Regions from separate parts of the Homo sapiens genome. Here regions 2 and 3 are each linked to region 1. The links come from fine-mapping of genetic effects on gene expression. A gene starts in region 1. Each other region holds a variant in brackets. All regions are shown on one strand. Distances are between the middles of the regions.

What was found. PIP is the estimated chance that this variant, and not a neighbour inherited with it, causes the effect.
Region 2: its variant is the best candidate, but not a certain one, in a credible set for the expression of GPSM2 in whole blood (INTERVAL, PIP 0.66).
Region 3: its variant is the best candidate, but not a certain one, in a credible set for the expression of GPSM2 in sigmoid colon (GTEx, PIP 0.74).

The regions. Positions count from the first base shown.
Region 1 is chr1:108,871,402-108,882,421 of GRCh38, reverse strand. GPSM2 (G protein signaling modulator 2) reads right to left here and starts at 5,437. Exons shown (of 15, transcript NM_013296.5): 1 at 5,194-5,437. RefSeq lists silencers at 5,042-5,111, 5,202-5,601 and an enhancer at 5,682-5,781.
Region 2 is chr1:108,903,891-108,914,910 of GRCh38, reverse strand. GPSM2 (G protein signaling modulator 2) reads right to left here. Exons shown (of 15, transcript NM_013296.5): 10 at 10,657-10,786; 11 at 503-573. Among named protein-coding and RNA genes, the nearest start is that of GPSM2, 32 kb to the right of the region's middle. The variant C/T (reference allele first, on the strand shown) is at 5,765.
Region 3 is chr1:108,833,645-108,844,664 of GRCh38, reverse strand. It overlaps AKNAD1 (AKNA domain containing 1), which reads left to right. Exons shown (of 16, transcript NM_152763.5): 6 at 1,398-1,531; 7 at 6,959-7,115; 8 at 9,609-9,736; 9 at 10,137-10,218. It overlaps LOC105378891 (a long non-coding RNA gene), which reads right to left. Exons shown (of 5, transcript XR_947687.3): 3 at 10,329-10,475; 4 at 8,197-8,416; 5 at 7,662-7,704. Among named protein-coding and RNA genes, the nearest start is that of AKNAD1, 18 kb to the left of the region's middle. The variant T/G (reference allele first, on the strand shown) is at 6,269.

The sequences.
Region 1 (11,020 bases):
CATAAATAATCTAGAGAGGATTAAAAGTTTGTGGGAAGATGCGTATAGGTTATATGCAAATACTATACCATGTTATATAAGGAACTTGAGCATCCATGGATTTTGGTATCCTCAGGGGGTCCTGGAACCAATTCCCCACAGATACTGATATTAAATTTAAATATTTTTCTTAGGTAGGCCCGGTGGCTGACATCTGTAATCCCAGTGCTTTGGGAGACCAAGGTGGAAGGATCACTTGAGACCAACAGTTCAAGACCAGCCCAGGCAACGTACAAGACCCCGTTTCTACAAAAAATTGAAAAATCAGCCAGGTGTGGTGGCCTGTGACTATAGCCCCAGCTACTTGGGAGGATGAGGCAGGAGGATTGCTTGAGCCCAGGAGTTGGAGGTTATAGTAATCGATGATTGCACCACTGCACTCCAGTCTGGGCCACAGAGTGAGACCCTGTCTCTAAAAAAATAAAACAAAATATTGTTCTCATCCATGAGTTCTTAATGAAATTCTAAATTTTGCAATTATAAAATGTTAATTTCATACTCCTTAAGATGTAAACATGTAGCATTTACATGTTTCACAAATTAACGAATAAGTAAATGAATATAAATAAAGTTGCAAAATATTTTACTTGATGAAAACTGCATGTAGAAAGAACCATTTCTAAGACCATTAAAATAAGCAAGAAGACAGAATGCTATTCACTATTTCAATAAGAGCAATTTATAATATAGTCTTACTATTCTCAAGGGAAGAATATCTTTAAAAGTGCCTCTTACATTACAATCTCCATAACAATTAGGTAGCACTTCACACAAAAAAATATTCACTGAACAAACAAGCAATTCTTGATTCATGATTCATGTTTTAAGAACTCTCTAGCCAATTTAGCAATAATGTGTTCACTCATGTTCCTCATTACATGGAGTTAACAAACCTACTTCCTAGATACAATGTGTGTGTATATAGTGTAAGACTAGTAAAATTTGCAACAAATATTAAATTACAAATTTGATCATTAGGATAAGAAAATTTAATCACAGGACGAAGAACTGGAAAATAATTTGTAGGTTTGAAAGGATATTGAGAAGTCATCAAGTTCAACCTCCAACCTCCACTACTATTTACAACTAACAATCTGCAAGGAACAAATCTGTCTCTTAATAGCATCTTCCAAGCAATGCTCCAAAAACCTCAAAATTAACAAAATTGCTAGATCACGGCATCTAACCATAAAGAAAAGGCAATCATTTTTTCCATATCCCGGGAATTGACAGAGACATATAGAAAGATCAACTAGTACATAACTCTAACTGCCTCACATTTAATTATCTGATTAGGAAGTCAAAATAGACAGACTCCCTTTAGACAGCTAGGTGGACTTCCAGGCACTGTCCAAGGTATGCAATCAGAGCAGACAAGAAAGGCTAGCTCTTTATCAAAGAAATCCTAGCCCTGCTTTACTCCACTGGCAGTAAAAAGTTTGCAAACCAGGTTACATTTTGTGCTTCTTCGAATTTATCTAAACTATCTGATCCTGACTGCCACTTAAATGCCAATAACTTTTGGTCTGTTTCTTTGTTTGTTTTTGGTCTGTTTCTTCCATCCATGGATCTACACAAACTGGTAACATTCATCAGACAATAAATATAATTTACTTTTCTTGCCACCAGGTTAGATCATCTGAACTATATATAAACCTTTTTGGTAAGCATAGCCATTTATTATTACCAACGATGGTCCAGTCATCAGCTTCAATCAATTAATACATATACATAATTTTAAAGCTCAATAGTGAAATAGAAAAGAAATGGTCCTTTCCACTAAGCATTGTTTTTTTTTTTTTTGAGACGGAGTCTCACTCTGTCGCCCAGGCTGGAGTGCAGTGGCGCCATCTTGGCTCACTGTAACCTCCACGTCCTGGGTTCAAGTGATTCTCCTCTCTCAGCCTCCCACAGGTGCCCAGCACCACGCCTGGCTAATTTTTGTATTTTTATCAGAGACAGGGTTTCGCCATGTTGGGCAGGCTGGTCTCGACTCCTGGTCTCAAGTGATCCGCCCACCTGGGCCCCTCAAAGTGCTGGGATTACAGGTGTGAGCCACTGCACCTGACCCAAACACATTTTAAAGCAGAAATAAATCCCAAATGCAGAAATATTATAAATGCTTAGAAAGGGTCCCTAGAGAGTTTGAGTTTAGAATTCTCCATAGGAAAATATATTAAACATGATTTTGTCTTCTCTTCCCAAAAGTTATCACCATTCTGTGGGAAAATAAATGTTTCTATTCAATAATGTTTTGTGATAATATGGGAATAATAATTCTAACTGAAAAGGACCAGGGAAAACTTTTTGGAAGCAAGGAATTTTGTACAGCACCTTGAAGGATGGGTAGATCTTATTAGCCAAATGAAGGAAAGGCATTCCAGTCAAGGGAAAAGAATGGCTCAAGAAAAAGGGAGGGTAGAAATGCACAGAATGTGTTCCAGGATAAGCACACAGTATTCAGAGTAGTGAAAGAGAAGGCTGAGAAGGTAGAACAGTAACAAACTGTGAGGGACTCTGAACATGTGGCAGAAGCATATATTCATATTCAGCCCCCCCTTTTTTTTTGAGATGGAGTCTTGATCTGTCACCCGGGCTGGAGTGCAGTGGCGCGATCTCGGCTCACTGCAACCTCCGCCTCCCTGCCTCAGCCTCCTGAGTAGCTTGGATTACAGGCGTGTGCCACCACACTGGGCTAACTATTGTATTTTTAGTACAGACGGGGTTTCACCACGTTGGTCAGGCTGGTGTTGAACTCCTGACCTCGTGATCCGCCCACCTCGGCCTCCCAAAGTGCTGGGATTACAGGCGTGAGCCACCGTACCCGGCCTCAGCCTTTTATTTACACAATGGGGAACCTTGCTGGTATTTTTTCCCCACAAAGGAATAGCCAAGTTGGATCTCTGCTAGGAAGATAAACCAGCAGCAACATATAAGGCAGGAATGGGGAGAAAAGAAAAATACTACAAAAACTCCAGAAACAACTACTGAATAGGAAGCATTTTCTTGTCATCTCACAACACCAACGACATTGCTTTGCACATAAGAGAGGCCCAACAAACTTTAATTTCTTCCCTGGGAAGAAGACAGGAATTATGACGAGGCCAAAGAATCCTACAATAGTGAGAAAACCGGACTGTAATACATTTCTTCTCCACAGTAAAGATTCTATTCATATTTATGTAAGAAACTCAGAAAAGTCTTACTCTTCACTTATGTTTTGTATAAAGATGATTAAGAAGATATTGAAAATATAATGTGATTTATAAGATGATTTATAAAATAATGAAGCAAGATAGTTCCAACAGAAAGATTGAAATATTTCTGCGAAGCTACAACAAAACACAGCACCTAAAGGCATCTTTAAAGTAGAACTTGTCCCTACAAATGGAATCCAGAGACACAGCAGAGATTTAAACAGACACACAGAAGCAATACAGCATGTGCTTTGGGATCAGGCCATGATTTGAATCTCGGCACAGTGACTTATTAGTTATATGATCTTACGCTAAACTCTCAGTTGGTGTGGGCATAATGACACTTACCTAAAATGTGCTGTGATAATTACAGACATGATTTATAAAGCACCTGACCCAGCACCTGGCTCTGATACATAACAAAAGTACTCAACATAGTGCTGTAGTAATAACAGTAACTGTTATTATAAAATAGACATATTTAATATATATTCAAATAAATTTAGAATAACCTAAATCTATGTCAGATTTTCCATTTTAAAATTCCAGAGAACTAATTACAAATTTCTAAAGATAGATCTTAGAAATATTTTATGTTTATGAAAAGGTCATTTTTAAAACTACTATATCTTATCACTGTTTTAATTAGTCTAGTAAGCAAGTCTCAGATCTATATTAAAATATGTTTGTAACACCGAATATCTGATTTAAGAATGTAAGAAAATACAATTAAACTGCTTATCTGGCCAGAGAGGATTTTGGAGACATGCCTCTACAACAACATCACACAACTTTTTACTTTGAAACCGCTCCAATACTTAAATTATAAGTAATAGCCTGGGAAATAGCTTGCGAAAACGACTCCGTGGTAGTTGTAAAGAGAAGTAGGTGTGAGACCACCCCTAATCCCTGAGGCCCCCCTCTCCTTACACACACCATGTCAACCAACAGTGATCTACCCTTTTTAATGTTGTTTATTCACTTCTAAACAATCAACTAAAGCTGCTCCTGAATAGTGAGAACCCAATCAAAAGTGGTATTTATCAGAAGCAATCACACCGGCTATTATCAGGCCAGAAATCTTCGGTACACCCTTCTAAAGTGGCAGCTTGAAAACTCAGCTCTGTTGGTCCTGCTGACTTCCAACACACCCCACGAACGCTCCAATGCAAACCCGATAGAAAGGAAAGCCAAGAACCTACTTCGTTTAATTCTACGGTGTGGTTAAATTATGCATTAAGGCCAATAAAATTTCCATCCTTACTCGTTTTCTTTAACAGAGTTCAAATGCTACTAGTTCAAATGCTCTAACTGGTTACTATTAAAACAAGGAAATTACAGATTTTTTTTTATTCGAAGGTATTCTATAGATTTCAGGAAAGAGTTTTCTTAACGTTTTATGTTTACTTACTCTTTTTGCAGCAACTACCAATTTCTATGGTAAATCGACCAGTTGGTGCCCAAAAGTTCACTAATTTAAGCACGGTCAAGGCAGGTATTTGCCATAAACTGCCTGGTTTAGGTAGGACGCGCCCGACTCCAAGTGATTGCAATCAGCCTCGGAATGAATTCCACGGGGATTCGGGCTTTGATTCACAATTTGTTACTCACATTCAGAGTGGTAAGAAGTCGCTGGACTCTAGTATAGTTTTTATCTTAAAAAAAAAAAAAGACTCAGGAGTGAGGCTCTTAACGCTTTACTCTCATTTGAAGACCTTCCGACAAAAAAGCAGCAACTCCTCAAGCCGAGTTTCTGGTTTCTTGAGCATCGACGCCGCGTCCCCGCAGCGCCCACAGGTCCCGCAAGCCCCCAGCCCGCCTCCTGCCCAAAACAAAGGACGTCACCCCCAGACCTCTGGACACAGAAGCCCCACACGCACGCACACGCACCCCTCCCTGTCACCTCCCTCCGAGAGCCCCTCAAACGCCTCAGAACCCGCGTCGCGGAAGCGCTCACCTCCCGCGGGCGGGCGGGTCCCGGGTACGCGGTGAAGGTGCAGCGGCGGCCGCCTCGGGCGACAGACGGGTGGTCACGGCCCCTCCCCAAGGCAGGGGCACCGCAGGAGGCCGGCGCGCCCCCTGCTCCCGCCCCCGGCAGGTCACGTGGGCCAGAGCTCGTAGCGCCCCTCGCTTTCCCGGAGCGTCCCTCCGCCACCTAGGGGTCCCGCCGCTCCGCCGGTCTCAACACCGCCCTCCTCTGCGCCTGCGCCCCGGCTCCAGGCGCTCTCATTCAAACCGACAACGCCCCGCGTCTTTCGGACCGGCCAATGGCGGGCGGCGCAGCGGGGCGGGGCGGGGCGCTGGTTGCCCCCCTCTTCGCAGTCCTGGGGAACCGTCTGCGTGTCAAGGTGACAGGGGGCTTGGGAGCTTGGTCCTCCTCTGCTCCGGGACGTGTCCTCAACCCTCAGACTGAAGTTTCTTTCCTGTCCTCTTCTTTCTTCTTCAGACACTAAAAAGTAGAGCAATAAATATTGTCTAGAGTTGGCCGGGCGCTGTGACGGACGGCTATAATCCCAGCACTTTGGGAGGCCGAGGCGGGCGGATCACCTGAGGTCGGGAGTTCGAGACCAGCCTGACCAACATGGAGAAACCCCGTCTCTACTAAAAATACAAAATTAGCTGGGAGTGGTGGCGCATGCCTTTAATCCCAGCTACTCAGGAGGCTGAGGCAGGAGAATCGCTTGAATCCGGGAGGCGGAGGTTGCCGTGAGTGGAGATCGCACCATTGCACTCCAGCCTGGGCAACAAGAGCGAAATTCCATCTCAAAAACAAAACAAAACAAACAAACAAAAAACATCGTACAGAGTTCAGATAGAGGCTGGCCTAGATCCCTTTAAAAAAGGAGCGCAAAACCAGCGCCGCCTTTTTGGAAGACTTGGTGCTGCGCTACAGAATGAGTGTCCCAAGCGGCAGATGCGGGATATAGAAGAAAAAGAGGCCTCTGTGGAAGGAACAGAGGGACCGTGTGAAAGTCTGAACAAGGCAGCCTCAGTTCTTGAGGCTGTGCCCAACCCTGGCGTTTCCAGCTGTTGGAAAAGCAAACTTCTGTTGACTACAGAATCGCTGGTTCCCAGGAAAATTGGGTGGCAGTTTTACTCAGTTTCACTCAGTTTCAGCGCCTACATTCTAAAGACACTGGGAAGAATAAGTTTTATTTCCATTCACCTCTCCTCCATGTCAAGGTGACCCCAAAATAGTAGTCACCTTATAGTTTGTTCTTCACAAAATACCGGCCGGGCGCGGTGGTTCACATCTGTAATACCAGCAACTTTGGGAGGCCGAGGCGGGGGGATCACCTGAGTTGGAGACCAGCCTGGTCAAAATGGTGAAACCCCGTCTCTACTAAAAATACAAAAATTAGCCGTGCCTGGTGGTGGGCGCCTGCAATCCCAGCTATTCGGGAGGCTGAGGCAGGAGAATTGCTTGAACCCAGGAGGCGGAGGTTGCAGTGAGCCGAGATCGCGCCACTGCACTCCAGCCTCGGCGACAGAGCGAGACTCCGTCTCAAACAACAACAAAAACCAAAATACCAAGACCAGAGTCTCTCTGGGGTAAAGCATCTGATGAATTTACTTAGATTATTTTTCAAATAGATATTTCTCTTCTGAAATGAAGTTTAAATGTTTCTACAGGGTAAAGGCTATGTTAAAGAAAACTCCGGGTTCAGTATCTCCGTGAATGATGGCCATAACCAGTGATCCAAGCAACATTTCCCATTAGGTGCATGTTATGGCAAATTGCTTAAAGGAACAGCTTTATCATCAAACTAGACCTGGGTTTGAGTTCCAATTCTGCTACTTACTTGCTGATTGACCTTGAATGAGTTATCTTCTTTAGTCTTAGTTTCCCCACCTGTAAAACATAATAAAGCCTCTTCTAATAAGGGTTGCTATGATGCTTCTGTGAGGTAAGGTTGTTAAGTGGTTGACATAGGGCCTGACACATAGAAACTGCTCCATACTTGATACCTATTATCGTTACAACCATCTTTAATATCAGGTTCTTGTAAATAACAATGGAATTGGTTGGCTGTACTGTTTCAGAGGTAGGTATTAATTCCTTCTTAATTATAAATTCTTTTAAAGTATGGATACTGTGAAAGCCACAAAGGAAATTTTATATATATAGAGAGAGAGACAGGACCTCCCTCTGTCACCCAGGCTGGAGATCACTGCACAGCAGCCTCAACCTCCCAGGGCCAAGTGATCCTCCGATCTCACCCCTCCCCTACACCCCAGTAGCTGGGACCACAGGAGCTTGACACTATGTCTGGCTATTTTTATTTTTTCAGTAGAGAAAAGGTCTCACTATGTTGCCCAGGCTGGTCTTGAACTCCTGGGCTCAAAGGATCCTCCTGCCTTGGCCTCCCAAAGTGCTGAGATTATAGGCATGAGCCCCCTCACCCAGCCAGAAGTACAACATTACATTCAACATGTCCAGAATTATTTACCCCCTGCAAATCTTCTCTTACATATGTGATTTCTATCTCTGATATTAGTTACTTCCATCTTCCTAATCACTCAAATTGAAAAATATCTTTTAAATGGCATAAGTCAGATTATGTCACTCTCGTACTCGTAAACCTTTAGTGATTTCCCATTTAATTTAAAATAAAATCCAAACTTCCTGTGGGGGAAAAGGCCTTAAGCCATCTTGCCCCTGCCAATTTCTCTCTTCTCTCCTATTTTTTCCTCCTGCTGCCTCACTTTCCTCCAAGTACACAGGGCATTCTTCATGCCCTAGAATGGACTAAGCCTCAAGGTTCTCTCAGGACCTCCTCCCTGCCTAGATTTTCCCCAAGCTCTTTAAATGGTTGGCTTCTTTTCATCCTCAGCTCTCAGCTTATTCATTACAGTATTCAGCAAGTATGTATTAAACTTCTGCTGTGTGTCAGGAGCTGTTCTAGGTACAGGGAATATAGTAGTGAGCACAACAGAACACAGCCCCTGATCTCTTGGAGCTCAACAAAAATAAACAACAAGAAATATCAGGACTGGGTGTGCTCACACCTGTAATTGCAGCACTTTGGGAAGCTAAGGTGGGACGGCTGCTTGAGGCCAGGAGTTTGAGACCAGCCTGGGCAACATAGTGAGACCCTATCTCTACAAAAATAATTTTTTTTATTAGCCTGGTGTGGTGGCACACACCTGTAGTCTCAGCTACTCGGGAGGCTGAGGCTGAGGCCCAAGAGTTCAAGTCTCCAGGGAGCTATGATCCAGCCACTGCACTCTAGCCTGGGTGACAGAGCCAGACCCTGCTTCAAGAAAGAAAAAAGAAAAAGAAAAATATCAGGTTATGATAGGTACCATGCAGAGAGTTACAAGAAGGGTGATGTGAGAGTGAGTAAGTGACTACTTTACTTCAGATTGGGGGCTAAGATAAGGAAGTCCTCTCTGAGAAAACGGCATTCAAACTGGGATTTGAATTATGAGAAGGAGCCAGCCTTCAAGCAAACTTCAGGGAAAAGCACATTAGGAAAAGGCAACAGCCAGTGCAAAGTCCTGCGAGGATTTTGCAGGATTTGAGAGCTTTGTGGACTTGAGAAACCGGAGGAAGGCCACTGTGGCTGCAGTGAGAAAGAAGAAAACATACAAAAGGCAATGTAGACCTTTGTAAGCCAGGGTAGTGAGTTTGGACTTTATTTTCTAAATATTATAGGAATCCTGTGGAAGGTTTTAAATATGGGAATAACTTCATCTGATTTATATATATATATATATATATATATATATATAAAATACGTATATATATATATGTATATATATATACGTATATATATATATATATATATATATATATATCTTTTTTTTTTTTTGAGATGGAGTTTTGCTCTTGTTGCCCAGGCTGGAGTGCAATGGTGCAATCTCAGCTCACTGCAATCTCTACCTCCAGGGTTCAAGCAATTCTCCTGCCTCAGCCACCCGATTAGCTGGGACTACAGGCATGTGCCACCATACTCAGCTAATTTTGTATTTTTAGTAGACAGGGTTTCACCATGTTGGTCAGGCTGGTCTTGAACTCCTGACATCAGGTGATCCGCCTGCCTCGGCCTCCCAAAGTTCTGGGATTACAGGTGTCAGCCACCATGCCTGGTCCTGATTTATATTTTTAAAAAAGCACTCTGGAACAAATCCAGAATTTGAGACATTCTGCAACTAGCCCAGACTCTTTATAAATGTCAATGTCATGAAAAACAAAAAGGCACATTAGTCTTGCTGGGGATCCTGGATCAGAGAGAGAGAAAGACAGAGAGAGAGAGAGAGAGGAAGGGATCTGTTTAAAAACATACTGTGATCTGCTCCATAACATTTATGTTTAAATGCCTATTTTATGCCAGGCACTTTGCTGGATGCTGGGAACACAGCAATGAAGTTTTTACCACATCACTTCCACAGTACTAGATGAAACCCCCTGGTGATCACACTGCTGACAGGCTTCCTTGACCATTTTCCAGTGTGTTGGAGTAGGGGGAGAGCACTGATAATGTACATAGCCTCACAACATGTGGGGTTGTTAGGATAGGCCAAACTTTGCTTTAAGATGAAACCAGGGTGGCTAGACTTCCCTGAATTATAAACGACCACACTGAATCAAGGCAAACTTGAATAACCAAGTAAATAACATTTGTTGCTTCCCTCCCCCAACAAAATCTATCAGAGTAACAGTGCTCCCTTGACTAAAAGAAAGAAGATTGGTTGTGTAGTTTCCTCAGCAAGAATGTGGACTTGATAACTCCACCTTTTAGAATAAAAGGAGATCCGGTGCGGTGGCTGATGCCTTTGATCCCAGCACTTCAGGAGGCTGAGGTGGGAGGATCGCATGAGCCCAGGAGTTGGAGACCAGCCTGGGCAACATAGTGATACCCTGTTTTTACAAAAAAATAAAAATTAGCCTGGTGTGGTGTCATGTACCTGTGGTCCCAGCTGCTTGGGAGGCTGAGGTGGGAGGATCACTTGAGCCCAGGAGGTCAATGCTGCAGTGAGCTGTGCTTGCGCCACTGCACTCCAGCCTGGGCAACAGAGCAAGGCCTTGTCTCAAAAAAAAAAAAAGTGTGTACATATATATACACACATACATATGTATCTATATATGTATGTACATATATACACATATATAGGTGTATGTATATATATAAAATAAGAATAAAAGAAGGAAAAAATGAGAGTGTGGAGTAGGTGAGTGAGTAAGAGCTTTCCAAAGGAATAGCTAAGAAAAAGAGAATGGGAAGGAGACTTCAAAATGCAGGGAAACAGCCTACTAACATGCCTAATCTCTCATGTGAAATCTAGAGTAAATCAGTAAATAATAATAGCTAAGATTTATTGGTGCTAGATATATGCCAAGCACTAGTCTAAACTTTTTTCATGTTTGAGGATTATACCTGGACATTGACTGATGTAAAGACTAAATGAATTAATACATATAAAGTGTTTAGAACAGGGCCTACCACATATAAGTGCTAAATTTTGCTATTATTATTATTTTAACTATAATCTCCACGGCAACCCTATGAAGTAGGTACTAACATCATCCCCATTTTACAGTATCTTAGGCTGGTTTCCCTAGAAGCCAATCCTGAGATGGGATTTAGACCCTGTAATTTATCGAGGGAGGGCTCTTTAGGAGGAACCCATAGGGAGAGAGTGAAACAGGATAGGGAAGGGGAAACAACCAAGAAAAACGGATCTTAGGAAATCCTAGCCTTGATCTGCTCTATTGAGGGAGGGCTCTGGAATCTAGAGCATAAACCAAACTGCAGAATTAGCCCCATCTTACACAAAGG
Region 2 (11,020 bases), 32 kb before region 1:
AAATGCTTTTCAAGAATGCAGCCAGAAAAACAACTCTCCTCTTGATCATAAATTTCATTTATCTTGGCAATAATGTTGCTATGTAGTTGGGGAAAAAAGCTTGTCCTTTTGATCTTCCTGATCTTCTATTAATTAAAAGTAATACATTTGCATAGTAAATGATTCAAACAGTTCAAACTGGTATATAAAGTATTTCTAGCCTAACCCAGACACTCAGTCCTCTTCCCAGAAGAAATCATTGTTAGCCCGTTTCTTATATCTTATTCCAGAATGTTTTAGGAATCTACAAAGGAAATATATGCATGTATTTTTCTTAAACAGATGGCAGCATACGGTACTCATTCTTTTTGCACTATACTTTTTCTGACTTTTTTTTTACAGGCAAATTTTAAAGTGATACCTATATAGGGCAAGCCTTATTTAAATTATTTCATTAAATTAAAAATTACTAAAACATTTTATAATAGTTCATGAAATTTAAAACATAAAACCTGCCACCCACCTTTTCTGGTGTTAACTTCATAAGTTCCATATTTTCCATACTATGCCGGCGTCCCAACTTGGGGCGTACACCTTTGTTTAAAAAAAATTAATTCAAATAAACCAGGGAGCCCTTAAGAGTACAAGTTCAGCATCATTACATTATTCAGTTCTAAAATCTGATACACAAACCCATATGAAACGAGAAAACCTGTACAAATATGTATTCTTCCAAGAATAATAATTTTCTATACCAGCTACACAAAAATAGAATATACATTCCCCTCTAAAATGCTTTGATGTAAGGAAGTTACATTTTGGTTGGAAACTAACACTGGTTACTACATTACCCCTTAATTTGAAAAAGGCATTTTATAACAACTGGTTTTATACTATCCACACAGTTTCAAAAATAACAATCTGTAGAGCAGTTTATTCCTTATAACAGAAGGAAAAGGCTGTAGGCCTTCAATTGCGTGAAAAGAATCAAAATAGCATCCCCACTACTATGCTGTTACTCTTTTCTAGGTTACCCCTTTCTATTTTAAGATCTCATTAGATGACAGACTTACTGCCAGTCAGAAAACAAGTAAACGAGTCCTTAAACTTTTTTCAATAAAGTTATTAAATACAGAGAATTTCCATATCCATTCAATGTTTTAAAATATTAGGCAATATTTTAAAAGGCATAAGAAATACCTAATACCCAGCTTAAAAAAAGAAACATTACAAACACATTAAACTCCCCTTGTATAACTCCCCTCATAATTTCCCTTGTCTTCCCTGCGCTTTTATGCATTTTCATTACAAATGTATGTATTTCTTAGCAATACAGCATGTGCTATATTGCTTTTGAAACTATATTGGTTTTAGAGCTATATTGGTTTTGAAACATTTATAAATGGTATCATACTGTATGTATTCTGCAACCATCTTTGAGAAACCTTATGTTTGTGAGATTCATCCAAGTTGCCATGTATACCTTAATTCATTTTCATTGCTGTTTTTGGCAAAGGCTTTTTTATAATAACTGGTTTATACTATCCACACAGTCTCAAAAATAACAGACTGTAGAGTGGACTAGGAAATCATCCATTTTATTAGTGACAGATATTTGGGTTGCTTCCAATTTTTTTGCTATGATAAGCACACTACAGATATTCTTGGAAACGTCTCTCAGTGTACATGAACAAGCATTTCTTCTAGTTTGGTGGGTATCAGCAGTATATAACTGGGAGCACAACAGGAGTGAAACAGCTGGATCATCCAGTTGGCGCATCTTTAACTTCACCAGAATGTTGCTGGATTGTACTTCAGGGTATACCAATTTCTATCCCATCAATACCACACAAGAGTTTCCATTACCCTGCATCATTTGAATACTGGTAGTAATTTTTGTTTACCTCATAAGTTTCTACCAGTACTCCACTGTGATGTTTGCTGATGAGATGAAGTTAAATATCTTCTCATATATTTATGGGCTATTTGTGTACTGTTCATCACTTTTGCCCCCCGCCCCGTGTCCCCCCCACCCTTTTTTTTTTTTAAAGTAGAGACAGGGTTTCACCATGTTGGCCAGGCTGGTCTCGAACTCCTGACCTCAAGTGATCTGCCCACCTCAACTCCCAAAGTGTTGGGATTACTTGTGTGAGCCACCATGCCTGGCCGGCCCCCGATCTCTTTTTTTGAGAAGAGGTCTTGCTCTGTTGCCCAGGCTGGAGTGCAGTGGCGCAATCACAGCTCACTGCAGCTTAGGTGACCTCTTGGGCTCAAAGCGATCCTCCCACCTCAGCCTACCAAGTAGCTGGGGCTATAGGCATGCAACACCATGTCCATTTTTTTTTTTTTTTTTTATACAGACAGGGGTCCTATGTTGCCCAGGCTGGTCTTGACTGCTGGATGCAAGCGATCCTCCTGCCTCAACCTCCCAAAGTGCTGGGATTACAGGTGTGAGCCACTGCACCTCTCCTGCATCATCACTATTACTGCTCTAAATCTGTCTTTCACATTGAAATCCTTAATCCATCAATAATTCATTTTTATGTGAGATTATTTTCCATATATGTGAGGAATATAGGCTCTCTACTCGATTCCACTGGTCTATTTGTCTTTATGCCAACAGCACACTGTCTTATTACTTATATCTGTAAAGAAAGCACTTTTCATATTCTTAGGAATGTTTTGGTATTTCTCAGAACTTTTTTGTTTCATATAAACTTATGAATAACTTCATGAAGTTCCACAAAATAATTGTGATGTGTTTGGCAGTGCACTTAATTTTTATCAATTTGAGAAGAACTGAAATCTTTTATAAAATTTTGTCAGCCGGGCACGGTGGTGCATGCCTGTAATCCCAGCACTTTGGGAGACTGAGGTGGGCAGATCCCTTGAACTCATAAGTTCGAGACTAGCCTGGGCAACATGGCAAAACCCCATATCTGCAAAAAAATATAAAAATCAGCCAGACATGGTGGCATGTGCCTTATAGTCCCAGCTACTCAGGAGGCTGAGGTGGGCAGATTGCTTGAGCCTGGGAGGTAGAGGCTGCAGTAAGCTGAGATGACTCCACTGCAGTTCCGCCTGGTGACAGAGTAAGAGCCTGTCTTTAAAAAAAAAAAAAAAAAAAAAAAATTGTCTTCCCACTTGAGTATGGTTTATCACCCATCAATTACTAAGAGATATGTATTAAAATTTCCCGTTATGATTGTAGATTTTCCTATTTCTTTGGTCAATTTTGCTTTATGTACGTTGAGGCCTTGTTATAAACACCTATTAAGCCCAGACACATTTAATGCATTCATCTTCCTGGTGAATTGAACTGTTAATCACTGGTAAGTACCACCGTAAAGTGACCTTCTTCATTTACTTTGGTTTTTGTTTGTTTGCTTGTGTTTTTGTTTTTCTGAGATGGAGTTTCGCTGTGTTGCCCAGGCTAGAGTGCAGTGGCGTGATCTCGGCTCACTGCAACCTCCACCTCCTGGGTTCAAGACATTCTTCCACCTCAGCCTCCTGAGTAGATGGGATTACAGGGCCCTGCACCACCCCCAGCTAATGTCTGTATTTTTAGTAGAGACGGGGTCTCACCATGTTGGCCAGGCTGATCTTGAACTTCTGATCTCAAGTGATCCACCAGCCTCGGCATCCCAAAGTGCTGGGATTACAGGCGTGACCTACCACACTCAGCCGACCTTCTTCATTTCTAGTAAGACCCTTTGCCTTAAAGTACATTTTATCTATTAACATAGCTATACTGACTGTCTTTTGGTTAGTTTTTGCATGATGAATCTTCTATTCTTTTACTTTCAGGTTTATTATATCCTTATATTAGATATTTCTCTTGCAAGTAGTGTGTAGTTGGATTTTATTCTTTCTCCAATCTGCTACTGTGTCTTATAAATGGAATATTTTCATTTAATAGTTCTAATGAAATAGAACTATTTCATTAGTTCTATATGAAATAGATTTAATAGATTTGGATATTTGGGTGATTTTCTCTTTACTATGTTCATTAGTGAATTACATTAATTGATTTTCTAATGTTGAATCCACTTGAATTTTTTTTTTTTTTGAGACGGAGTCTCTCTCTGTCGCCCAGGCTGGAGTGCAGTGGTGCTATCTCGGCTCACTGCAACCTCTGCCTCCTAGGTTCAAGTGATTCTCCTGCCTCAGCCTCCTGAGTAGCTGGGATTCCAGGCACACACCACCACCCCTGGCTAATTTTTGTATTTTTGGTAGAGACGGGGTTTCACCACGTTGGTCAGGCTGGTCTCGAACTCCTGACCTCATGATCCGCCCGCCTCAGCCTCCCAAAGTGCTGGGATTACAGGGGTGAGCCACTGCGCCCGGCTCCCCGTTTGTTTTAAAATACATTACTGGATTTGCTTTGCTAATATTTTGTAAAGATTTTTATATCTTATGTTCACAAGTAAGGCTGGCCGGTAATTTACTTTTCTTGTATTGTTCTTGTCTAGTTTGGATATCAAGGTTATGGTTCTCAGAAAGATTGATAAAAGTATGTCCACTTATTCAGTTGCCTATAAAATTTTTGTGTAAGGTATTATAATTAGTTTTCTTAAGTGGCTGGTTTACCTCACTTGTACAATCATCTAGGCCAGGTATTTTCCTAGTGGGAAGATTTTAAATTACTGCTCGAATTTCTTTATAATTTTAGCCATTAGCATGCCATTCACATTACATTTTACCATTGGAACAGTTTTGGTAACTTGTTTTTCCAGAAATTGCCCATTTCTCCTAGATTTTCAAATATTTTGTCATAACGTTATTCAGAATCTCTTTTTAATCTCTGCATATTTATTATGCCCTCTTTCTGTAGACTTAGTCAAAATTAAACTAAACAATTTGGAACCAAATTTTGACTTAAAGAAAACACTGTTTTAATTTTATTAAATTCTGCTTTTTAATTTTTGCCTTCTTTCAGTGTTTTTTTTTGTTTGTTTGTTTTACTTTTTAAGCTAGATGGTATTAAGCTTTCAGCCTTTTTCCTTTTTTTTTTTTTTTTTTTTTTTTTGGAGATGGCGTCTTGCTCTGTCGCCAGGCTGGAGTGCAGTGGTGTGATCTCGGCTCACTGCAGCCTCCGCCTCCTGGGTTTAAGCAATTCTCCCGTGTCAGTCTCCTGAGTAACTGGGACTACAGGTGCATGCCACCACGCCCAGCTAATTTTTGTATTTTTAGTAGAGACAGGGTTTCACCATGTTGGCCAGGATGGTCTTGATCTCTTGACCTTGTGATCCACTCGCCTGGGCCTCCCAAAGTGCTAGGATTACAGGCGTGAGCCACCGCGCCTGGCCAGCTTTTTCCTTTTTAAATACAACATAAATTTTGCTCTAAGTACCAATGTAAGTCACATGCCACAAAATTGAAACAATATTTTTATAATTCAGTCCTAAGTTACTTTCTAACTTTAAGATTTCTTTCTCAACCTGTAAGTTACTGAGAAATGTTATGTTTTCAGATTAATGTTTTATATATTATCTTATTAATTTCTAAATTAAATGCACCGTGCTCAGAGCATGTGTGATACAGATGTGATACAAATCCTTTTAAATTTGTTGAGATTTGCTTTATTGTCAGTTTTCTGTAAATGTTTCATGAATACTTAAAAATAATGGAAATTGACCAGTTAGGTCAATATATTTCCATTAAAGCAGTGGTTTTCACTTTTAAGGTGTGACCCCATATTAAAAAATACACATATATACCTAGAACATACACAAACATACAACAAAATCTTCACACAACAGTTTTATATACATACATACACATA[C/T]GTGTGTAGTTTTTTGGTTTTTCTCTATTGCCCAGGCTGGAGTGCAACAGCATGATCATGGCTTACTGCAGCTTCGACTTCCTGGGCTCAAGTGATCCTCCCACCTCAGCTTCCCGAGTAGCTGGGATCACAGGCTCATGCTACCATGCATGGCTAATTAAAAAAATTTTTTGGAGAGATGGCGGTCTCCCTGTGTGCCCAGGTCGGTCTAAACTCCTGGGCTTAAGTGATCCTCCCACCTCAGCTTCCCGAGTAGCTGGGATGACAGGCTCATGCCACCATGCACGGATAATTAAAAAATTTTTTGGAGAGATGGCGGTCTCCCTGTGTGCCCAAGTCGGTCTAAACTCCTGGGCTCAAGTGATCCTCCCAAGAGCTGGGATTACAGGCATGAGCCACTGCCCCGGCGTGTGTGTGTTTGTGTTTTGAGATGGAGTCTGGCTGTCGGCTGTGTGTGTGTGCGCGCACGTGTGTTTTGAGACGGAGTCTCTCTCTGTCGGCTGGAGTGCAGTGGCGCGATCTCGGCTCACTGCAAGCTCCGCCCCCCAGGTTCACGCCATTCTTCTGCCTCAGCCTCCCGAGTAGCTGGGACTACAGGTGCCCGCCACCACGCCCAGCTAATTTTTTAGTAGAGACACGGTTTCACCGTGTTAGCCAAGATGGTCTCGATCTCCTGACCTCGTGATCCACGTGCCTCGGCTTCCCAAAGTGCTGGGATTACAGGTGTGAGCCACCGCGCCTGGCCTCCTGTGTTTTTTTTGTTTGTTTTTGTTTTTGAGACAGAGTCTCGCTCTGTTGCCCAGGCTGGAGTGCAGTGGAGCAATCTCGGCTCACTGCAAGCTCCGCCTCCCAGGTTCACGCCATTCTCCTGCCTCAGCCTCCCGAGTAGCTGCGACTACAGGCGCCTGCCACCACGCCTGGCTAATTTTTTGTATTTTTAGTGGAGACGGGGTTTCACCACGTTAGCCAGGATGGTCTCGATCTCCTGACCTCATGATCCGCTCGCCTTGGCCTCCCAAAGTGCTGGAATTACAGGCGTGAGCCATGGCGCCCGGCCCCTGTATGTGTATTTTTAATGCTAACTGCAACTCATAAGACTCATTTTATAACTCATGAATGGGTCAGACACATAGTTTGCAAAATATTGCATTAGATGAAGCCTATTAATTGTGTTGGTCAAATCTCAACTTTATTACTGATGTCTGACTCCTGACTGATTTTTATCAATTATTGAGGTGTGTTAACATCACATTAAGACATAACTATCACATAAGACGGATTCTGGAGCCAGAGTGACTAAGCTTAACTCCCATCTCTACCACTTACTACACAGGTAACCCTGGGAAATTTACCTAACCTCTCTTGCCTCCATTTCCCCACCTGTAAATTAAGGATAACAGAAACTTAACTACTAGAATTGTTACAATTAAATGAGTTAAAACATGTAAAGCACTTAAATCAGTGCCTGGCATATCATAAGCACTCAATAAATGTTAGCTTTTTTTTTCAGTCTACCTAACATTTTTGTTATTCTCTTGTTTTCATTTCCTTGTTACTTCTGTAAACGTTCAACCACAGTCATTTTATTTTCTATATCTGATAATTCTAACATCTGAAGAACTTGATGACCTAATTTTGTTATTTTTTTCCTTACTATCTTGGCTTGTTTCTTTACATATTTGGTAATTTTTTTGTTGTGAAACGCTTATGACCTGGAATCAAGGATGCCTTTCCCCCAGAAACTATTTGGTCTTACTTCTGCTAAGTCTCTAGGAACACCTCTAACCCAAAAGTGCTTTAATGGATTAGGGTTTCTTAGACTGTGCAGATGGTATAAATCAAATTCCAAACCAGTATGTAGGGAGGCTTATGAATTCATGAATTAAGATTTTTAGCGAAGGCTCCTTTTTTCTACCTTGAGCCAACACCAGAAATAGACAAGTTTTCTTACAAATCCTTTCTCCTCACACTGGGGAGATGGCAATGAACAAAAGAGACCAAAAAACACCTGTCTTCATACAGCCAGAGTGAGCAAGAGGTGGAGTGGCAGGAAAAGAGGCTGAAGAGATAGGTTCAGATTACATAGGGCCTTTCAACCATGGTGAGGACTGAGGATTCCGTTCTAGGTGTGATGGGAACTAACTGAAGGGTTTTGAACAGAGGAACGACGTATATTCTAAAGGAGCACTCTGAGGCCAGGCATGATGGTTCATGCCTGTAATCCCAGCACTTTGAAAGGCTGAGGTGGCAGGATCACTTCAGCCTAGGAGGTCGTGCCTATAGTTCCGTCACTGCACTCCAGCCTGGGCGACAGAGCGAGATTCCATCTCAAAACCCTCCTCCCAGGTTCAAGCGATTCTCCTGCCTCAGCCTCCTGAGTAGCTGGGACTACAGGTCTGTGCCCCTGTGCCTGGCTAATTTTTGTATTTTTAGTAGAGATGGGGTTTTGCCATGTTGGCCAGGCTGGTCTCGAACTCCTGACCTCAGGTGATCCACCTGCCTCAGCCTCCTGAAGTGTTGGGGATTACAGGCGTGAGCCACTGTGCCTGGCCAAAATATTTTTTTAATTTAGAAAAAAAAAAAAAAAAAAGCACTCTGGCTCCTGTGTGGAAAAGTAAGTGTGAGAGATGCAGAATCGAAGTAAGAGAAATCATTGGTAGGCTAGGACTCTGCTGGGAGCTGTCGGTAGCTTATACTAAGATTGTTGCAGAGTACACTGTAGGAGAGATTAGGGATATATTTTGAAGGCAGGTTTCTGATAGGTTTGATGTAGAAGTGAGTGAAAGAAAGGGAACAAGGCCAGCTACTTGAGAAGCTGAGGTGGGAAGATCTCTTGAGGACAAGAGTTCGAGACCAGCTCGGGCAACAGAGTGAGATTCTGTCTTTAAAAATAAAATAAAATAAAATAAATAAATAAAAGTAGAAAGGGAACAAGTATGACCCCTAGTTTTTTGGCCTGATTAGTTGAGTGAATGGTGATACTATTTCCTGAGATAGGGTGGGGTACAGGAAGAACATGTTTAGGAGAAAACATTATGGACATGCTAAGTTTTAGATGCCAATTAGATATGGCATGACAATGGAAAATTTTAAACAAATGAGTCTCAAACTCATGAGAGAAATTTTGGCTGGAAATATAAATCTGAAAATAATCAGTATATAGACAATATAAAAGCCAAGTAACTGGATGAGATTATCTAGAGCTGTGCTGTCCAATAGCCAGTAGCCACATGCGGCTCTCTACATTTTAATTAACCAAAGTTAAGTAATATTAAAAATTCACTCCCTCTTGTAGTAGCCACATTTCTAGTGATCAACAGCCACATGTAGCTAGTGGCTTTTACATTGGATGGCAGATGTAAAACGTTTTTATCATCACAGAAAAGTTCTATTGGAAGCACTGACTTAAAGCACAGAATAGAAGGAAAAAGGATAAAATCAGTAAGAAGGAAGGAGAGAGAGATGGAAAATAGGGAGGGAAAGAAGGTAGGAAGAAGAGGTCCAAGAACTGAACCCTGAGCACTACAAACGTAGAGGAAAGATGAAGAAGAGGAGAGAAGAGAATAAAGACGAGAGTGGCAAACCAGAAAAGCAGAGTAATCCTGGAGGCCAAATGAAGAAAGTTTTCTCAGAAGGGAATGATTGGCTATAGGAAATATTGCTGAGAAAAATCAAGTAAGCTGACATGTGAAAACTGAATGATATATTTGGTAAAATGGAGGTCTCAGAGACATGGTGAGGGCAAAGCCCAACGGGAATGGGTTGAAGAGAGAAAGGGAGGCAAGGAAGTAAAGACAATGAATATTAGTGTCTTTTCAGGTTTTGTTATAAGAGCGAACAAAGGAACAGGTCTACAGCTAGAAGGGTCTATGAAGACAAGCGACTGTTTGTTTTTGCTTTTTAAAGATGAGAGCTCTTAACGGCATAACCTATTTGAAAGTTCAGCACAGAAAAACGTCTTAGCCCATCATTCAACCACAAAGCACGCAGTCACAAATTATTATACGGTTCACACTTCAGAACTTTTCACTAAATGTTCTTTGAAAATCTAAATCAGATGACTAGCCACTAATTTCTTTTCCTGAGTTTAAAGAAAAAAATTGGAAAAAGTAAAGGTAGATTTATCACTGACTTTAAAATTCAAAATATTTGTCAGTAGTTTTTTTTAGACTGAGAATTTCTCAAGCTTAGGAAAATGATCTCATATAGAATCACATACTGATGAAATTTAAAAATGTGATCCTAATCTTATCCCTTTTATTTCTTTAAAAGTAGATTTTCTTTCACTCAAAAAGAGACATTATAGCAAATTTCCTCGCTATAGAAATGTCAAACAAATCGGCACCTAAGGAAGGTGTCCTAAAGATAGGTTTTGCCACCAAAAAAAAAGAAAGAAAAATAAAGAGAGTATCTTAGATTTTCTGAATTTAAAAAAGTCCTAAGAAAATTCACCTTGGAAATGAAATGGGGGAAAAAGAACTAAACAGAAAACAGATACGTAAAACGATATGAGATAAAAAGGATAAACAATAACATTTTAAAATTTTGGCACCTTCACATTTACAAATTTTTGAATGAGCTTAGAGATAGAGAATTTAAATGTATTTTTACAAAAGAAAAGAACAATACCATCACCATTCCTAAGTTCATGGTAAAAACTATAAAATATTGTTTTACACTTATAAATTATATATTATAATTATATATATATTATATACAAAATATATAATTGTAATATATATTTACAAACAGAGCTGTGTACAGCAAAAAAGTGTAATAAGTTGAACTTCCCATGTTATATATTCTCTCTGAATATGCCAAATTTGTGATAAATAACTTTAATCTAAATATTGAGGATAAAAAAATTGGGTTTTAAAAGTCCTATTACTTACCATTCAAACTGCTATCAATTTCAGTATTTTCAGACATTATGGAGTTATTTGTGCTGTAGCTCAGACCAAGAACCATTTGAAGGTCTGAGAGATTAAGTCGTGCTGTTAGTTCACCACTTTTATCCCCAACCTACAACACAAACATTTATATTTTAGAGTAGTATTTAAAGAGAAAGAATGGTGAAGATTATTTGTAAATGTAGTGAACCTAAAACTAGAAGAAAATATAGAGAAATGAAAATAGTTATATTAGAATTATGAGACTATGAATGAATGAAAATTTTTTTCCATTAATAGTTGTCTTAAAGAATACAGAAAGAAAAAGCAAGCTTCTAAAATATCACAATAGGACAGCTAATTGTAT
Region 3 (11,020 bases), 38 kb after region 1:
TAAGTGACAGAGTCTGAACTTGCACCCAGCTGTGTCTGATCCTGTAACCTCACCGAGCTATGTTTCTGTCCTGGGCAACCTCTGTCCAATTCATCCCTTCCTCTCCATTTTCATGGATACTGCCTGGTCCAGGCCCTCCAGAGCATCCTTTATGCCTGATTTAAGTTGCACTCCTTCCACTGGGCCTTGGCAAAGGTCTCTCTCTCTCTATCTATCTATATCTATATATACATATATAGATATGCACTCCAGAGCTCTGGCTTTGGTATATATATATATATATATATGGAGAGAGAGAGAGAGAGATGGAGTCTCGCTCTGTTGCCCAGGCTGGAGTGCAGTGGTGCAATCTTGGCTCACTGCAACCTCTGCCTCCTGGGCTCAAGTGATTTTCCTGCCTCAACCTCCCAGGTAGCTGGGATTACAGGCACGCACCACCATGCCCGGATAATTTTTGTATTTTTAATAGAGATGGGGTTTCACCATGTTGGTCAGGCCGGTCTTGAACTAATGACCTAAAATGATCTGCCCACTTCGGCCTCCCAAAGTGCTGGGATTATAGGCATGAGCCACTGTGCCTGGCCTTTGGCTAAGTACTCTAAGCCACAGTCTCTTTTCTCAATGGAATAACATCTCTAAGACCAGGAACTGTGCCTGATGCAATTTTTTAATCTCACACTTCTGGCCCAGGGCCAGAAATAGAAAGTGCTCAGGGAATGTTTAGTGACTGGGGATGTGGAACTGAAGCCTCCATACATCTTCAACATGCCCCTAACCCGCACAGTTTAAACATTCATCTGCTTGAGGCTGCACGTAGTGATGTCTGGAAGACCCATTCACAGCTTTGGCTAAATCTTCCTGCTGTTCCTTCCCCATCTCATCCTCCAACTCCCCACAGACTGAAACCCAGGCCATGTAACTACAGTTCCTTTTTAAGATCTATGTGCCTTCAGACATATTGCTAGAGCTCCAATTTCCTCCTTTGTAAAAGTGGGATAATAAAATATACTTTACTACATTTACAACATTGATGTGTTGATTAAATAAGATGAGGAATGGAAAAATGCTTTGTAAGCTAAAAACCATTCTGCAAATATACAGGATTATGAATGTCCCACTAAGGAAGGCCAGAGGCCTCTGAGTGGGTTCTGAGAGAGAAATCAGAAGTAATTGTACTTTTGAGCTGTGTGCTGTGAGGGTTTGTGAATGTTGAGATGACCCTTGGGTTGTCTGTAGTTTAGATGTCAGACTCTGAGACAAAACAATTTATGCTGCTGGGAGAAGGATGGCAGCTTTGTTTTGACACTACTGTAGGGTACACCTGCTTTGTGTTTTTGGGAAAACAATTACACACACAGGCTTGCATGTGAATGATTCCAGTGACTTCACCGCTGCAGGTCCTGGAGAAACTGCAGGGACACCTTGAACTGCTGGAGCAGAACTTTCTGGCCACCAAGGACAAGCATCTGACTTTGCAGCAGCAAGTCCACAAGCACGAATCAACAATCGTTGGTGACTTTGATCCAGAAAGGTCAGATTTAAACCAACTGTGTAAGGTGGAAGGGTCAAAGGTGATCTCCTTCAGGTGGGATTCTGATGTGGCTGCTGGCTTAGTGCTTGGAGAGCCACTGGTCTAGGGTCAGCAGAAACTGTGTCACCAATGAACAAAGTGTCACCTAATACCACAGACAGCATGGAGGACCTGTTGAGTGTAAGGTGCTGTGCTGGACATTGACTCAGATGGAACACCCAAAATGAACAAATGCTTCCTGGGGCAGAGGCATTGTACCAAAATTTTGCAATTTGTTGAATATCATTATAATTGGTTTGGAGACCCAGAGGAGCCTAAGAAAACCCTAGAAAGGCTCACATGATAACCACAGAGGGCCCTCTTCTCAAGTTCCTCCTCTCCTCTCCCTCTCAGCTTTTTCCTCTCTTATCTATCTCTCCCCACACCTGCCTTTATTGTCCTTGCCTGGTTCTCTCTTCTGTCCCTCTCTTTCCCCTTTTCTTTCCCATTCACTGATAATTCCAAGGCACACTGGGCAGGAGGGGGTCATTGTAAAGTTAATTGGTGTCAGGGTGAGGGACCTACAAATCCTGATAAAGGAAAAGCGTGAAAGCTTAAAGTTAAATGATTTCTGAGTTAATTCACATTAGAATCTTGAACACACACTCCAAACTGAAGTTTCTAACTGGTAGTTTTTATGGCACTGTATTCTCCTTTCTCCATTCCAGATAATTTTAAGCTGTATTCCAGGACTCAAGGAGAGGATTCTTTCCCTATAATTTCCTGGTATAAATTAAAAGAAACTATTTAGTAGGCTTAATATTTGTGAGTTTAGCCCTTTCTATTCATAGCATTTTAATATGGAATTGTTGTTGCCAAATTTTTTAATGGTTTACATTTCAGCCCTAGCGTTCTGTGGCATTTTTTTCCCCAAGGTATGGTTTTACTTTTCCAAAATTAATGGAACCTCTGTCTACCTTTATTTCAGCACTGAGTAATTAGACAGTAAGGATGAGGTTTTAATATTGATTTTTTTCCCAAAGGCTTTTTTTGGGGGGAGAGGAAGAAAGAACTCTGCATGCTTCTGCTATTTAAAATTAATAGAGTAAGGATATTTATTTTCCAAGGAATCTTCTGCTTGGGCAGTCATTTTAAAGACAGGTTTCTGTGCACATTAAGACCAAAGTTATTCAATGTCTTATTTATATCCTAGTTACAGCCACACTGTGCCTGGCATGAGTATAAATAAAAAGAGCTTCAACTGCAATTACATTCCATATATGGGAGAAGCTTTCAACACTGGGGCAAGGGAGGGACCCAGACTTTCCCAAATCTCGGCTGAAGTCACCTCAGGACAGGCAAAGACTGATCAGCTCCAGAATAGTCCCCTTGTTCTCAAATGGGCATAATGTGACAAGGAACAGAATCCCATACAACCCTTGGGTTCTTGATATGTCGAGAACCTTATAAGTGTTGAGTCCAAAGGCTAATGCAGAGGGCTTTCTGGAGGGGCAAGAATTCTGCAAATTCATTGACTAGTCCTTTGTTTACATCACCTGCTGTGCTCTTATTAAAGCCTTCTCATTATTACCTTTACAAGGTAATGTGCAAAAATATTTGCTTGGATTTCATGCATCTTGCTTGTCAGAATGTAGTCCAATAGTAATTTGCTTCTTTCACATATTAACTTCAGAAGCCAAGAATTCAAGAAATGGGGTTCTACCTTCATCAGCCACTTCTCCCTGAGAGTCTCAGCATAAAATCTTATGTTCTGCTTTAAAGAAAAGATCACAACTTCCCTCAAAAATGTCTCTTCTATCTCCAAATCCCCATGTTTTCACCTCCTCTCCCTTCCTTAGTCTGCTCTCCAACCTCTCTAGCCATGGTCCTTGAACCCATCCCTTTCTACTTCCTTGAGGCCTTGCTCCATCATTTTATTTCTTTTATTATTATTATTTTTATTATTACTATTATTATTATTTGAGATGGAGTCTTGCTCTGTTGCCCAGGCTGGAGTGCAGTGGCGCGATCTCGGCTCACTGCAACCTCCACCTCCCAGGTTCAAGCGATTCTCCTGCCTTAGCCTCCAGAATAGCTGGGATTAAAGGTGCATGCCACCATGCCTGACTAATTTTTTCATATTTTTAGTAAAGACGGGGTTTCACCGGGTTGGCCAGGCTGGTCTTGAACTCCTGACCTAAAGTGATCTGCCCACCTTGGCCTCCCAAAGTGCTGGGATTACAGGCATGAGCCACCGTACCCGGGCTCATTTCTTTTAAACTTTCAGTCTCTCCTTGTCCCCTGTTTCATTCTCTTCTGCCTGCAAGATCCCAACATAGTTTCCTATATTTTATTCAATTATCACTTTGTTTTTTTCATGCTTAGATCTTTGTCCCACCACTTATTGAATAGGGCAGCCTTTCCCCACTGGTTGAAAAAGCCCCTTATATCAGATACAAAACCTCCACATGTATACAGAACTGTTTCTATTCCATCCCATTGATCTATGTGTCTATTTCTACATTATCCACATAAACTATTATAGGTTAGTGTATATTTAGAAATGTTTCTTCTTTTTAAAATTTTCTTATAGCTATTCTTATACACTCATGTTACTAATAAACTTTATAATCAGCTCACCAAGGTTCTTAATAAAATTTCATGAGGATTTTGCTTAGGAATGTATTGAATTTATAGGTTAGATTGGGAAGAACTGAAATCTTTGTAGTAAGTATTCCCATCACGTTTTCTTCATGCAGATTTTACACATTTTTTTGTTAGGTTTATTACTAGCTATTTTATAGTGTTCTGAGTATTGTCGACAGATGTTTTCTCTAATTGATGTCATAGGAAGTATTTCCATATTGTATATTTAACTTGTACTGGGCTACCTTATGCAATTCTCTTCTTAGTGTTTTGTTGATTTTTTAGTTGATTGTCTTAATTTTTAAGTATGACAATCCATAGCATCTGAAAATATTAATAAGCTTTTTACTCCAGAATATTTGTATTGTACTTTCTTTTCTCTCCAATTCTTATCTATCTCATTTCTTTTTCTTTATTTCATTTGCTAGGTTTTCCAGAACAATATTGGATAATTAATATTAGTGAAAGACAGCATTTTTTTTTTTTTCAGACAAAGTCTCACTCTTGTCCAGGCTGGAATGCAGTGGCACAATCATAGCTCATTGCAACCTCAAACTCCTGGACTCTGGGATCCTCCCACCTCAGCCTCCTGAGTAGCAGGGACTACAGGTGCATGCCACCACTCCCAGCTAATTAAAAAAAATTTTTTTTGTAGAGACATGGTCTCCCTATGTTTTCCAGGCTAGTCTCGAACTCCTGGGTTCAAGTGATACTCCCACACTGTGGTCTCCCAAAGTGTTAGGATTACCAGCGTGAGCCATAAAAGACAGCATTCTTGTCATGTTACTAATAATAATGAGAACTCTCCTAAGTATGATTCAAATAGATAAGCTTCATCAAGAGAGTTTTCTTCTATTCCTAGCTTTCTAGAATTAGGGCTTTTGTTGTTATTTAATTCAAGAAAATGTTTAATCAAATGGGATTTAGAAATCTAGTTTTTCTCCTTTAATCTATTAATTTAGTGGAATATGTTAATAAATATACTAACGTTGAACCACAGAATGAGTTGGGCAATTTTCCCTTTTCTTTTTTTTTTTATTGAGACGGAGTCTCGCTCCTCCAGGCTGGAGTGCAGTGGCGCGATCTTGGCTCGCTGCAAGCTCCGCCTCCCGGCTTCACGCCATTCTCCTGCCTCAGCCTCCCAAGTAGCTGAGACTACAAGCATCCGCCAAGTTTTCTGTATTTTTAGTAGAGACGGGGTTTCACCATGTTAGCCAGTATGGTCTTGATCTCCTGACCTCGTGATCCACCCACCTCGGCCTTCCAAAGTGCTGGGATTACAGGCGTGAACTACCGCGCCGGGCCCCTTTTCTTTTCATGTTCTGGAAGAGTCTAATAATATAGGACTTATCTGTTGCTTAAAAGTCTTGGTAGAATTATGTTTAGTGAACTCCAAGGTTCTATACACGTGCTTCGGGGTCTGCATATACTTGATTTAAATTTCTCCTTTAAAAATATATGTTGAAATATATGCTTTCAAACTGTTATAAATTACATTTTAAACTATGTAATACATAAAAATTAACATATTAGAGACATTGAAATTTTTTTTAAAAGGCTTGGTAGAACTCACCCATTATCCCACTCTTCATGCCTTTCATGGAGTAGATTTTTAACACTTTCCATTTTTCTCTGGTTGTTGGTCTTTTCATATTTTCTACTTTTTTAAAAGTGAATTTTAATAATTTATATTATTCTAGAAACTTGCCCAGTTCACCTAAATTTTAAATGGTGTTGATATGGATTTTTCAATGCCTTTTGATTTAAAATTTTTCCTATTTTTCCTTTCTCATTCTTAATGTTATTTGTTTTTCAGACTTCCAGTGGTTTGTTTCATAGATATTTTGGAAGAAAACATGTTTTATCTTATTGATCAAATTCTTTTAAGTCTCATTTATTTCTAGTAATTTTATGAATCCTTTTCTGTGGTTTATTTTATATTCCCTTTTCTATCTTCCTATTTTAAATAGTTGATTGATTTTTGATTTTTTCCCCCAATAATGCATTTAAGACTAGAAGTTTTCCTCAGAGTACTGCTTTAACTGCATTACATTGGTTTTCCTATGTTATTCTCTCATTTGTCATTGACTTGTAAGTTATGCCTAACATTCA[T/G]TTTTATTTCCTACTTAATCCAAAGCTATTTAGGTATTAAAATTTCTAATTAAACAGGGTTTTTTTTGGGGGGGGGGCTATCTTTTTGTTGTTAATGTCTAGTGATAAGAGAATGTAGGTAGTATAATTTTTAATATTTTGGATTTTCTTGAAATTTTCCTTTGTGGACTGTTACGAGGTAAATTTTTATAAATGTAATGGATTTGAAGAAAATGGATTCTCTTTGTTGGGTAAAATATATATTTATATACACATACACATATATTCATATGGATTAGAACTTGTTAATTAAATTATTCAGATATCTAATATTCTTCCTCTTTTTAAATTAGCATAACAAGTAATTCCATAGAATCACAGTTCTTAGAATCCCTTGTAAGGGATCTCAAAATCATCAAATCCAGATAAGTAAGGTACAATATTGTTATCCCAGGTTATAAGTGAGACATTGGAGGCCCAGAAATACTAAGTGATTTATACAAGGATACGCAGCTAATGGACAGCAGGTGAAGATCAGAGCCCAGGCTGTCAGAGAAACTATGAACAGTCATGCGGGCTCCCATTATCCTTTGTGACAGAAGACAGGCCACATTAATAATATAAATCAATGCTGTATTCAAGAACTGTCATTATTAATTAGAATGCCAACCACATAGCCCAGAAGATGCCTGTGTGTTTATGTTTACTTAGAAAAGTGGAAGGTGAAATCTTCAAATTGGAGATGCTGCTTGAAGATGTTAAAGAGAAAATGGATGAAAGCAAATATACTTCAGCTCCTTCCCTTCCTGTGAGTTCTCCAGTTACCCTGGATGACTTGGCCTCCACCTTCTCTTCACTCTCAAATGAGGTAATACAGCAATGTACAGTCTAATTTTGTGCCAGGAAAAATGGTGTTTTTGCATTTATAGACTCCTAATTCATGGATTCACTGAATTCCATTTTTAATATCTCATGAAAATTTAACTTTCCAAAGTCCCATGAATTATATTATTTTAAATGGAACCAGCTTTTAAAGATTAGAAGCTATTTCAAGTGTTAATTTTTGAAACATCTTTATAGTTTAGGATGTAACAATGCTGTTTAAATCCATTAAACCACCGAAGAGCTATTTCTTCCAAATTAATAAGAAAATTTTTGTAGATCATGCCTGGAAGAAATAATTTTTTTTCTTCATAGTTTTGTACTCACCAGGCTGGAGTGTGGTAGCACGATCTCAGCTCACTGCAACCTTTGTCTCCCGGGCTCAAGTGATTCTCCTCCCTCAGCCTCCCAAGCAGCTGAGATTACAGGTGCATGCCACCACTGCCTGGCTAATTTTTTATATTTTTGGTAGAGATGGGGTTTCACCATGTTGGCCAGGCTGGTCTCAAACTCCTGACCTCAAGTGATCCGCCCGCTTGGCCTTCCAAAGTGTTGGGATTACAGGCATGAGCCACCTGAAAATAAAGAATAGCACACTCAGTGAAATAATTATTTCCCATGAATCCACTTCTGCATTTTCCTTCTCTCAAGTTAAATTCTTTTGGATTTCTACTTATGCAAGATTGGGAATTCAAATTAACCACCACTGTCTTTCTATACTTTTTGCCTTTGTAGCCTCAACTATCAGAACATTCAGACTAAAATCAAAATTCTGAGAAACAGAATCATTTAAATAAATACCTTAAATTGACTCTTTAGTTTCATACAGTATTTGAAGACACAGCCTGGGGCTGATATTCAAACTTGAATGAGGATTTTGTCAAAGCGAAGGACAAAGTGACAAAGATTATGTCAAGGTTAGCCCTTCCGAAGAAGTGTTTGCCTCCTCAAAGCACTTACTTGCCTGGCAAAATCTCACTCATTCAAGGCCCAGCTCTAGCGTCAGGTCATTTATGCATCCCTAGTCAGCCACCCTCCTCACCCCCAAGCCCCCCAATCCCCCGCACCTGGAGGAATTCTTGGCCCCGGCCTCTGTGTCCCCGCAGCACTGGGTCTCGTTTGTCTCTGTGACTCTGCACTCATCTTTGAATCCTGAATGTCCAGCTGAAAGCCCAGGAGAGTCGATGCTTCATAGAGGAAGCCCTGAGCCACCGTGGATGTAACAGCCCATCTCAAGGCACCCAAGCAGTTTCCAGGCTCACAGCGGCTGCCCTGCTAGTCTTGGACCTGCAGGAGTCACAAGTCTTTGTGAGGCCACCTCAGGGTTGGCCCTGCCCTCTACCTGGCAGCTCCCTGGGGTCTGGATCTGCTCTTCTTTACTTGGTCCCAAGTTTACAGCTACTGTTGTGAAATGATGAGAACTCTCTAAATAACTTTGTGGTAAGTGGTTCTGGAAAGAGTCTAGTGCTGGCATCCTTCATTCACTCAGCAGTATGTATTGCTATAGGCTAGCACTTTTCTAGGTATTGGGGATAAAACATGAACAACAAACAAATCACCTGCCCTCAAGATGCTTACATTTCTGTAAGAGAGACATATACTTAACAAATTAAGCCAGGTGCGGTGGCTCACGCCTGTAATTCCAGCACTTTGGGAGGCTGAGGCAGGCGGATCACGAGGTCAGGAGTTCGAGACCAGCCTGGCCAACATGGTGAAACCCCGTTTCTACTAAAGATACAAAAAATTAGCCGGGCGTGGTGGCGGGCGCCTGTAATCCCAGCTACTTGGGAGGCTGAGGCAGGAGAATCGCTTGAACCCGGGAGGCAGAGGTTGCAGTGAGCCGAGATTGCGCCATTGCACTCCAGTCTGGGTGACAGGGCAAGACTCCATCTCAAAAAAAAAAAAAAATTAAATTAACATATAATTATGAAATGTTAAAAAGCACAGTGCAGAAAATAATAATACATTCTGCGTGACTCTGAAGCCAGACTACCTGGGTTCACATACTGGCTCTGTCACTTATTAGTTTTGTGATCTTAGGAAAGTTATGCAACCTCTCTGTGCCTCAGTTCTCTCTTCTGTAAAATGCAGATAATAATATTTGCCTCACAGGGCTGTTATGATGTTTAAATGAGTTAATATAAGTAACGTACTGAAAATAGGGCCTGGCTCACAGTGAGTACATTACTCCTGGGTGTTAGCTATCATGACTATTAAGTAATGGGATATGACCAAAAGTAACTAAATGCAGAAGGTTTGAATTACTAAGGGAGAAGGTTTTTCAGAGAAGGTGAGATTTGGACTGAGTCTTGGAGGATGAGAAGACAGCTAGGTAAAGAGCTGGGGGAGACAGGGGTGGGGGGACGCCAGGCAGGATGTTATGGTGCCTTAGGGGTGCTGTAGGGATGCTGAACTGATTTTGAGTCACCTCCAGTGGGACTGTGGCTCTAATTCAAGTCTTTCTGTGTGGCTCCCCCAGATTCCCAAGGAGCACCCCGGCCACCCTTCTGGGCCTCGAGGCTCAGGTGGGAGTGAGGTAACAGGGACACCCCAAGGAGGGCCGCAGGAGGCCCCCAACGAGGAGCTCTGTGAGCTGGCCCCGCAGACGTGAGTCCTAGCCCTGGAGCCCCAGCAGACACAGGACACAGAAAGAGGCCCCTTCCTCATGCAGCCTCCAGGAAGGCCCATGAGGCTCCCACAGGAAAAGCAGTCTTGGACCACGAGTTACAAAGCCTGGTAGCCTGGCTCCTCACCTGCCCCACCAGCAGGGCCTGGCCAGCCTCTGCAACCCTCTGGGCAGAGATCTGAGGGACGGGACAGCTGGGGCTGGGGGACGCGGGGAGAGGTGAAGGTCAAGTGGCCGCATGAGGCCCATAGCACTCTCTGCCTTAGGTTGCTCGCTCCCACCATCCCAGGGGTGATGCCAAGTGATTCCAAATAGTGGAGCTCCCAGGTAGCTCAAGAACTGATTCTAACATTCAAACTGCTTTTTTTTTTTTTAAATTAGTTACCTAAACGGTCATTATGGAGATGCAGCTGCCCAGAACAAGCCAGACCAAGTGGCCATGAGGCTGTCTTCTAACTCTGGGGTAATGTCCTGCAGCCGGGGCCTGGCTGGGTTCTTCTCATTGTTGGCTCTTTAACTAAAACCAGTGTTGCTGAATGTGACTGTGAAATTGGCATAATCAAGATCACTTACCTCTTCCTAATGGCATCCTGGGTGTCAGTGCTGGTGATGGCTGGTACTGCTGACGGTTTCCCACTTTCTGCACTCCTGAGAATCTCGGCAGGCGTACCTAGACCGGAGCTTCTCCAACTTCTCCGAGCCTATGAATCACCTGCAGATCTTGTTAAAATGCAGGCTCTGAATCAGTAAGTTTGGGGCGAGCCTGCAATTCTGCATTGCTAACAAGCCCCAGGTGATGCCAAAGCTGCTGGTTCTGGTCTGCGGACCACATTTTAAATTCTGAGGGTCTAGAGATTATTTCATTTCGAATGAATTGGAAATGCTGGGATTACCAACCCCGGGGTCTTAAATGATATTATATTATAATATTATAATAAGCAGTAAACAATGATATAATAATTATGTTGGCTCAGAGCTTTACAGTTTGCAAAGACTTTTTGCAGAGGAAGAGTAGTTTAGAAAGGTGATATTTGTTCAGGGTAAATGATAGGTGATGCCCGGGTCTCCAACTCAGGTGGAGGGGCACCTCCCTGCATTCTGCTAATGTAAATCTGCCTTAAATGTCAGTGGAGGAGTAACCCTGTAAGCTCAGCAATGATAAAATATAAAAATTAAAAAAAAAAAACCATGGGAAAAATGGATGAAAAAACCCTTTTTTTTTAAATTATAAAACTGATACATGCTTATTACAAGAGAAATGAGAA